Regions from separate parts of the Homo sapiens genome. Here region 2 is linked to region 1. The links come from fine-mapping of genetic effects on gene expression. Tissue or cell type: prefrontal cortex. Region 1 holds a variant in brackets; the other region holds the start of a gene. All regions are shown on one strand. Distances are from middle to middle.

The links. PIP is the estimated chance that this variant, and not a neighbour inherited with it, causes the effect.
Region 2: it holds the start of PAQR8, and the variant in region 1 is fine-mapped to the expression of PAQR8 in prefrontal cortex (GTEx, PIP 0.93).

The regions. Positions count from the first base shown.
Region 1 is chr6:52,419,023-52,424,228 of GRCh38, reverse strand. EFHC1 (EF-hand domain containing 1) reads right to left here and starts at 3,887. Exons shown (of 11, transcript NM_018100.4): 1 at 3,756-3,887; 2 at 62-283. The coding sequence starts at 3,818. It overlaps LOC124901331 (a long non-coding RNA gene), which reads left to right and starts at 3,248. Exons shown (of 2, transcript XR_007059611.1): 1 at 3,248-4,020. RefSeq lists an enhancer at 3,327-3,918. The variant T/G (reference allele first, on the strand shown) is at 3,195.
Region 2 is chr6:52,360,121-52,365,247 of GRCh38, reverse strand. PAQR8 (progestin and adipoQ receptor family member 8) reads right to left here and starts at 3,097. Exons shown (of 2, transcript NM_133367.5): 1 at 2,999-3,097. RefSeq lists silencers at 2,845-3,334, 3,508-3,693.

The DNA.
Region 1 (5,206 bases):
TTTGCAAGCAGTTGGCTCTCAGACCCTAATTCAAGGGGTACCCTAAAATTCCAGATGATACCTTTTTGTCAAAGGCCACATGCGCAGGAATAAAATCCGCAGGTGGGGCTTGTTTAGGTTGGCCATAAGTTAAGACTGGTGCCTTACTGGCCAACTCATCCAGCTCAGCCTGGGACAGCTGGTTGAACTGGAGCCGGTCTCCGCCTATCCCAACTGTTGGACGTCGAACAATTGCATAGCCGTTCCTGTAGCTCAGCGTCTGACTTCTGTGGAAGGCTGTTTTCTGAAGAAGAAAAGAATGTGTCATTAATAACATTAGACAAATATTTGTTAGGTAAAAAAAAAACTAACTTTTAAAAATATAACTTGAATCTTTGCTTATAAGCATCACAAAACTTACATCAAGAAGCTTACCAACATTAAGGCTGGGCATGGTGGCTCGTGCCTATAATCCCAGAACTCTGGGAGGCTGAAGAGGGAGAATCACTTCAGCCCCAGAGTTCGAGACCAGCCTGGGCAACAAGATGCTGTCTCTACAAAAACTAAAAAAAAAAAAAAAAAAAAAAAAAAATTAGCTGGGTGTGGTGGCTTGTGCCTATTATAGTCGGCTGAGGTGGAAGGATCACTTGAGCCTGGGAGGTCCAAGCTGCAATAAGCTATGATTGAACCACTGCACTCCAGCCTGGGCAACAGTGAGACTCTGTCTCAAAAAAACAAAACAAAACAAAAGCTTACCTACATTAAAAGATTCTGTATTTTAAGTTAAAACACTTGAACAAGAACAAGGAGCGAAGTAGCCACCTAAGCTTAAAGTAAAATTTAAAGCTGTGCTCTGTAATGCCCAATTTAACTACCAATTCACCTTGCATGAGAGATTAAAAGAGTATCTCATCTATACTCTTAAGTTTTTCACTAGTCTTCTCATGTTTTTCATCTGATATCTGGGGCCGTAAAAACTGTAGAACCTAGAAGATACGGTTCTGTGAATTTTATTTTTACATGGAATGAATTTATTTTTACCTGTCCCTCTTGTCACAATGACAGTGATACATTCTTACAACTCTTTGGAAAGCAACTGGATGGTATATATTTAAAGTCTTGAACTCAATAATTCTACCCCGACCATTTATTTACGAATATGATTCAGAATTATGAGAAAGAACTATATGCCTGAAGCTGCCCATTACAATGGTAAATGTTGAAGACAATCTAAAAGACAGTCATATGAAGACATGAGTAAATGATCGAAAACTCACTCAATGGATTATGGTGCTGTCATTAAAATATTGATTTTAGAGATCACGTGGCAACCTGGTGAAAATATTTATGATTTAATAAGCCTGAAAAAGCAACATATAAAATTATATGTGTACTGCAATTATAAGCATGGAAATATGTGCATGAAGAGACTGGTTTGGTCCTCTGTATTATACATTTCTAAATTATGTTGATTTTTTACAATGAACACATTTTTATTTAAAAGATTAAATAAAAAAGAGTAGAAAGGCAAATTAGAGGTTATGTTAATGGTTTCCTTTTTCTGTTGTGAGGATACTTTCACAATTACTTATCTATAATATTCAAATATATACATAGATACAATTTAAGATTAATCATAAAAAATATTTTTATGAAAAAAACTTTCTACATCCTAATTGCTTTAGAGCCCAGCCTACCATCTTTCAAGATCTGTACTAACATGAAAGGTACAACAGAATAAACTTCTTTTGCTAAAAGGGTTATAAACTGTATATAACCCATAAAAACAAATGTATGACATTTGTTTTTAAAGGTCATGTATTCAGAGTCACAAGTCAGTTGACAGGGACTGCTCCAGGTATATAGTAAACATGACATAGAACAAAATGCGCTGAGTTGACATCCTCATTGGGTAATTTATGGAACTTCAAGCTCTTCTTCCACCACCAAAGACAGAAGCAACATCAGTGACTTCAGTTTATTTCTTTGTTTTAGACAAATGTCTCTACCATCATTCAGCCATAACTCACAGACACCCCAGGCAAGGCAACCTCGGCCCTTTCCACCCCTCTTGTCCATTATGGTTCACCTTCTGTGTGTCTTTTTTTAAAATCGTTTTCCCACTCCCCTTTAAAAATTTTTTAACTTCTTATCTGCATGTCTTTAGAATTACATTAATACATATTCAGTCCTTCACTGCTGAAGATATACTGACGATGCTTTTCAAATTTCAAATAGGGCAAATTGGTTGACACTTGGCCAGTGTATTTAAAATCTGAAATATGTCCAATGCACAGTTCTTCTTACTTGTAATACAGCAATATGTTTTTAGAGCTTTGCACTTCCATCCACACCTCTGTAATTCCCTGTATCAACTCAGCCCTGTCTATACTCACCAACACCAAAAGCTTAAGCTCATCCTGTATAGGGCAGGCAAGTGCCTACAACATTTTCTAAATTACATAAAACTGAAAAGTCCACTGAAACTAAAAATCTATGATGTTGTGTCTTAATGCAGGGATAATTACAGAGATTCAGAATACAAATTCTCTCACCAAACTTTCGATTTCATTCTAAATTGATTCTTCCAAAGAAAATAAATTGACAAAATATTTTAACTTTGTGAAGCTGGAGAGGAAGGCAAGAGTTTAAAGTATTAAACTATATAAACATAAACTACTGTTAGCTCATCTATGATGATCAGTCTACTGAATCTCATTATTGATTTTTCAGCACATACATTTCAGTAGCCCTGTCAGAATTAAAACAAACCAAATAATTTTAAGAGCTAAACTGTGGCAAGAGTTTAAAAAAAAAAAAGAATCCAAGCTGCTGCTACTTTTTAAAAAATTTTGTCTAGAAAATGCAAATAAAAACACAAGGTTGGGGAAGGAGCAAAACAAAATCTAAACAGGAATCTTTTTACAAAAACGTTAGAATAAAAAGAACAGGGCCGGGGAAGAATAAACAGCAACTAATCAATTCTTGAGGGAACTGGAAAGGAATATCTCTTACAAAGCAGGGAAAGATGCTTTGGGAGGAAGGTGAGCAAGTTTTGGGGAAAACCCGCAACGGAGAAAGAAAGGAATGGGGAGAGGATGGGACTAAATTGTGGAAAATGTAGAAGATGGAGAAAAAAGAATGGGGTTGGATGCAAGCATAAAGAAGAAAGGAAAAAGACCTGGCGGAAAGAAGAGGAGCGGAATCGATATACA[T/G]ACAAAACAGGAAATGGAGCTGGGAGTGGGAGATACTACCGGGTACAGGATTCAGAAGAGGAAGAGGTGGGGCGGGAATGACGGACCTGTGGGAATGAGGTTGAAGGTGCATAGTGGCGGGGGGTTTTAAGGGCGGCGATGGACGGAGACAGGTTATGATGTGAGAGAACGAGCTAGGGAGAGGGCCCAGAGATAGGTTGGGAGTAGGGTGGGGGAAACAGTGATCTAAAGGGACAAGAGGCAGGGGCTTGGAGGAGCAGGGCCGTAAGAAAGAACGCGGCTAACGGGATGAGAATGAAGGCGCCAACACACTGCCAAGATGGAGTGGGAAAAAACTAGAGAGGGATGAGGCGGAGGGCAAAGGATCGGAGAGAGGGGATGAGGATGGCTAGGGAAGAACGGCAGAAGTTCGGCCCAGAATAAAGAACAGGGTCAGGACAGAAGACGTGTTTGGAGAGAAGACAGACTTGAGTGGAGGGGAATGGAGGTGCACTGAGCGGGGAAACCTCCTGGGCTGCTGGAAGGTGGGGACAGGTGGGAGTCTGGCAGATAACTGCTCACCGTAGAGTCCTTAAAGGACGTGCCCGGAAGAAAGGGCAAGCCATGCACGGGATTGGACACCATTGCAGCCGGTACCACCGCCGCCACCTAGGTCCTGCTTCGTCCTCTCCGGTTGCCCAGGCGACAAGCAGTGTTCGCGGGCACCTCCAGGATCCATGGTAACGCTAAACATCCGGAACTCCCACGAGCGGAAGGCGGGGCCAGGAGGCGCAGGCATCACAGGAGGTTTGCGCGTGCGCCATCCGCAGGACTCCGCGTTCTCGCGGTAAGTGGGCCGCGGCCTTGGAGCGCGGCTAGTGGGCGTGGTTGTGTCGGCCCCTCCTCTTCCGCTTCGCCCCGCCCCGCTCCCGGAGGATGAGACGTGGGAGCTGTTGGGTGGCGCGGGGAAAGGCGGGTGTAGCGAGGCGGTAGTTCTCGCTGTGAGATCCGGGGTCCGAGCAGGCCCTTAGATGAGTTGCAGAGAGGGACGTTCCTTCTCTCCTTCCACCTAGTCCTGGCGGACCTCACTGCGCCCCGCCAACGCTGTGAGCTCAGGCACTCTTTTCTCCCCCCTCTGCCCCATTTCACACAGAAGTGTAAATGGTCGGTCCAGTTGGCAGTGCTACTAAACTAGACCCATGCTTCTTGTAGGCAGGGGCCGAGGATTACCCATGATTGTGTTTCTGTTGCTCAGGGATGGTCAATGAACTAATGCAATCATCTCATCCTTAATTCTCCCACTGCCACATTGTATTTTTCCCCTTTTAACTCTTTTTTAAAATCAATCTTTCTCTTTCTTTCTTTCCTTTCTTTCTTTCCTTTCTTTTCTTTTTCCTTCCTTCCTTCCCTCCTTCCCTCCGTCCCTCCTTCCCTCCTTGCTTCCTTCCTTCCTTCCCTACTTCCCTCCTTCCGTAGAGATAGTGTCCCACTATGTTGCCCAAGCTGGTCTCGAATTCCTGGGGTCAAGCGATCCGCCCACCTCGCCTCCCAAAGTGCTGGGATTACAGGCATGAGCCACCGCGCCCAGCTCTCTTTATTCTACCATCAATCCCTTCGGTTAAACACCTTTGTTTTTGTAGGGAAAGCCTTGAATATGTGCTGCAGGGCAGGGTGCACTCTGATAGGTACTTGATTTTTGTTGACTGAAGAGCTGCAGGTTGAAGGGTGGTCACCTCAATCCCTCGTTTGTACCTGCAGCTGCAATGAAAAAGATCAGAACCACTAGGAGGAACACAGCTCCTTCAAAGAGAAAGACTAAGTCTTGGGAAAGAAGCAGATAAGTGAGGTGAAATATTGTCAGCATCATAGGTATAGCCTTTGATGCTTTTTACAAAACTTGCTTAAATTATTTTTTCTTAAAAGAAACATAATCCTATTCCTGAAACATTTTTTTTGGGGGGGGGGGGAGAAAGCTATCCATCATTGCTGAGGAGCTTAAAAATAAAAAGTAATCAAAACCCACGTGCCGAGAG
Region 2 (5,127 bases), 59 kb after region 1:
TTCAGAAATCATTCTCTTCCCTTTACTTCTGTGGATCCTTTCACATCAAAAATCAAGCACCAGGCATTACCTACAGCTGGGGCAAATGGCTTTCTGGGTACCTTTTTTTTTTTGGTGAGACAACAAGTCTTTTGTATTTTTGTTTTGCTTTCTGTAAAAATCCACAATGACAGAGACTGCCTAGTAACAAGTATCAGGAGGGGCAAAGAAAGGCTTACTTTTTCTAGCCCAATAAGCCATAAGCTATAACAATAAAGTGACAGGACCAATTACTTTACATACATACCAGAGCATAAACACCAAAATGAAGGTTGTGCTTCAAAGTAGTTAAGTTTTTGAGGAGTTAAATGTTGTACTCAAAATTTCCACTGTGGAGATGATGGGAGCCCCTAACCCCGGTGTTATTCAGGGACCAACTGTAATTCCTTCCAATCCTAAATACATACTCCATGCCATTACTAAATGCCCCTTTTAGAACTGCCAGTCTTTCAAGAGAATTTTCATTACTTTAATGAGCATACTTATTGACAACCTCGATTCCCCACCTCGGAAGCCCAAGTTGGCCCCGCACAGTGCCTGGCTGTTTCCCAGCTGAGGAAGGTTTGCCACCACTGAGGCAATCAGGAAATGTGTTGCAAACTCGGAAGGCAACTCCAAAGCAGGAGCTCCAAAATTATTCTCAGTAGTGACAGCATCACTAGAATTAGTACACAGCTTGCCAAGAGCAGGCTTTTGAAGGGGAGAAATACTGATTTGAATGTATAAATACTGGCATATTTATTTTAACATTTGGATAAAGAATTGGAAGCATCAGCAAGTGTTACGTCCAAGTGAATAAGTACACTGCTGCAGGAATGATAGTGCAGATTTTGATGCAAGGTCCTGACCACTCAATAAGGTATACACACACCCTTAATGGAAATATGCTTATCCTGAAATGATTCTTGTAAAATGAATAAATCGCTTTCTATCCTGTTAACTTGCATAATTATTAAAGATTTCCTTTTCATGAATTAAAAACAGACCCAACAAATGCTAGTTGCCAAAATAATCCTTGTTTATCCAATGAAGCTCAAATCTCAGTGTGTGTCAGAAGATGGACCTATATGCACCAGAAGGAAATCTGGTGCATACACACACCCGCAAAAAAAAAAAAAAAAAAAACATATCTTTCAATGGATATATCCACTTAATAAGATTCCTCTACTCTGGGTCTTCCAGAATTGGTTGTTACGCCAAATAACTGAAATAATTACCATACATAATTAACAATACAAGATGGGTTAATGTAAGATAGTCAACATTTAACTAATAATTGAAGGACACGCACCCAAGGACAAACAGCAGAAATAAAAAACAAAAACAAAAACAAAGCCATGCCTTGGTCCTTTGTTTTTAGATACACACTTGGATACTCATCCACTGAGGTCCTAAGCAGTCTGGCTCCCTTCCAGTTGACCTGGTCAAGGGTGCAGCAGCTCAGGGCTGGGTACACGTTGTGGATAACCTTAACAGGGCAGTCAAGGGCAGTCTACCTTCCATGCAGGCAACTCCTATTAACTTCAGTAACAGGAGTCTTCACTGACAAGCAAATACTCCCAAACTGTACAATACTCTCATGTTTAACTCGACTGGAATGCAGTGCGTTTGTGGACATTGTTTGGTGTGTGTATTTGTTGTGGATTTTCCTCGTTTTTACCCAGAAACAGCTTCTCAGAGTACTGGAACAAGTAGTACACACGTGGGTCTAAAAATCACACATACAGTGTATTGTATGAGTTATCCCTAAGGCGCGCACACACACGGGTAGGTATTACCTGTACATTTGAAATCTCACTCCATAACTAATTTTTTTAGCCCAGGCTCTTCTCATTGGGTTCCTGGACAAAATCATTTCTAACCCAGCTAAGAAATATGGAATGCAACTTAGGTCAAGACAATGAGCCTGCCAAGGCTCCTGGACTTCCCACTAGTCTGCCAGTGCCTGGAGCACCCACAGCTGCACAGGAAGCTGCTGTGCCCGGCTACCTCCAGGTCCCCGCACCGGGTCGGCAAGGTGCAGCAGCCCCCAAACCCAGGCTCCGAATATTCCCCAAGCGCGCTGAGTGCGAGGTCCCCACCCGCCTCCGTCTGGGGATGCCCGGTCTTGCTCCCTAGACTAGATTCCCTCTCGAGTTATCTACGACCCTGTTCCACCGAGGGCGCTGCGTTCTCATAGCCTAGACAGACGTTCCCAGCGTTCCAGCCCCACCAGCCACCTCCGACACCCCACCGCGGCGTTCCCATCCAGCCAAGCCCCAGCATCCGCCCATTAGCCAGCTGCCGGCGGTTCCCATCACAACTCCGCTCCTCGCGCCCACCCTCTCAGAGAAGCCCCCTCCATCTTTCCCCGGCGAAAGCACATGCCTAGACCCACCCTACTCTTTCCGGGGTTCCCCTACCTCGGGCTGCCCTTCCTCGGGCTCTCCCTACCGCCCCGGGCTTCCTCTCCTCCGCACTCCCCTCCCAGGTTCCGTTCCCCTCCGCCCTGCGGAGGGCGCCCCACAAATGCGGACAGGACGCCCCTCGTTCTGCCCTGTCGGACTCCCCCACGTCTTGGTCCTGAATCTCCCGCCCTCCGGGCTCAGCCTTCCCAACATCGCGGTCCCCACACCCCCGCCAGCTCTCCAGGCTCAGGCTCCATGACTCCCCAGCATCGCAGTCCTGGCCACCCCACTACAGCCGTTCAGAGCTCCAGGGCTCCCCAGCATCCTAACCCGTCGTCCCCCCTTCCGGGCTTGGATTCGGAGACTCAACATCGGGGCCCTAAACTCCGGCCCCTGGCCTCAGGTTCCCAACGCTGCGACTCTGGACCTCCCCTCTGAGCTCGGGGTGCGAGGACTCCCCAACGCCGCGATCCTGACGTCCCCGCCTCCCGAGCTCGGGCCCCGGGGCTCCCCGACCTCGCGGTCCCAATACCCAACTCGACCCGTTCCGCGCCTCCCGCGGCGGGACTCACCGGCAGGGGCGGCGGCCGAGCCCGTGCGCGTAGCCCAGCCCGGCCCAGCCCGCGCTCCCGCCTCGGGGTCCCGGCCACGAGCTTCCCGCGGGTGGCTGTGACCGCGGCGGGCTCGGCTCGGGGGAGCGGCCGGGAGGAGGAGACCGCCGGGGGCGGGTGACGCCCAGCTCCGCCCCTTCCCGACCCGGGGGCGGGATGCGCAGACCCGCGCGCTCCGCTGCAGCCCGCGCCGCTGCCGCCGCTGCGAGGAAGTTGACTGACGCCGCTTCCTTCCACCCAGGACGCAGACCCTCGCAGTCCCTGGTAGCTGCAAAAAATCCGGAGAGTTTGAGACAGAGACGCCTTAACCGCCCTCATATTCTTTCCAAGAATTCACCTCTCAGGGGGCCATTTCCGAAGTCCCTCGGGAAGGGCGGAAAACAATAACAAACTTCATCTGCGCTGTCAAGACTGATTTAAATCCTGGCCTTTCTCTCACCACTCTCGGGTGAACGTTCAGGGTCATGCCCATGATATAAATAATGTGATGACATACCACGGAGGCCCTTGCAGACACTTCCACACCCCTAAGATACACCCGCCCAAGACTCGCGCCTCTCCCATGACTACATCACACAGACACATCTGACACTGACCTGCAGAAGATCCCACTTCTACCCTGTGTCCTCAATCCACAGCCTTCGTGGGTCCCAGCAATAGCGACCCACACATACAATCTATTGGAGGCAGGGTGCGGGGGTGGGTTCCACCTCCCGACTTGCTCCTCACCCACAATGTTCTCGGTATTTTACCATGAGAAAAAGACAGTTAAGAAGTTGGATGATCAATTAACAAATCAAGTTGGCTTTGCTTTTAAAAAGCCTTCTTCATTATCTGGAGAAAAGAGAAGGCCTGGGAAGATGGCCTGCTTACTGTAAGATTTTGTCAGACAGGCCTAATTCTGGTCTGCTTACTGTAAGATTTTCTCAGACGGCCTAATTCTGGTCTGCTTACTGTAAGATTTTCTCAGGCCTAATTCTGGTCTGCTGGTTCCCAAAACTTCTCTTATACCACCGTGTTTCAGTGACATGTTGCACAACATCTCACATTTGTACAATGTTTCCATTTTTCAAAACATTTTAGCCGAGTGTGATGGTTCACACCTGTAATCCCAGAACTTTGGGAAGCCAAAGTGGGCAGATTGCTTAAGCCCAGGAGTTCGAGACCAGCCTGGGTAACAAGGTGAGACCCTGTCTCTGCAAAAAATACAAAAATTAGATGGGCGTGGTGGCACACGCCTGTAGTCCCAGCTACTTATTCTCAGGCAAACATCACGAAGCAAAGAAAGTAATCTTAGCAGGATTATTTCAGTTCCATAAATGAAGACATTTAGACTCTGAGCAGTTGCACGGCAGGTTTGAAGCTGAGTCAGAGCCAGGAAAGAGCCCAGGGGCCTGTCTTTAGAGCCACTGATCTCCCCAGGGAATCATAGTCCAGCACTTACTTATAGGTGGATACTAGTGGAAATGTCACAGGAGGTCTTTGGCAGCTTTGCTCCCTCCATCTCTTCTTCACCCCAAAGATGTCAGGGAACTCTCCCTTAACCTCAAAAACCCGGGCTCTCCTTTATCGTCAAAAACCTATGATAGGCCAGAGGTCACAACCGTACAAGAGGGCTTATTGAGAGGGAGTGAAAACTCCTTCCACTTTGGGCCACTCTAGAAACAAAATTACAGGTTAGCACATCTAAAAGCCTATCCACAGCCTTCATCCAACTAACGTGAGCTGTCAGCCGGGAGCTGATGAGCCTCCGAAATGCATTGCTGATTATTTTTGCAGTGTTTTTCTCCCTAACAGTTAATCCATGTGGAATGTGAAGAAGTCTTAAAAGGAGACTAACAAGGCTTCTAATTCTTTCTCAATGGTAAATGTTCCTTTCTTCTTGCCCTTTATCCAAAAGGCAGATGTGAACGTGCATGTAAAGTGTAATGGGTGTCAGGCATTGTTATCTGTGCATGAGGCAGTTCTGTTTCCAAGTGACGCTGTCCAGAGCCACTAAATAAGAATGGTGGTTCTCATCCTTCATGCCTTTTAAAACTACCTTGGTCTCAAGCTAGCTTCTTTTATTTTCTACTGTGAGGTAATGGCCT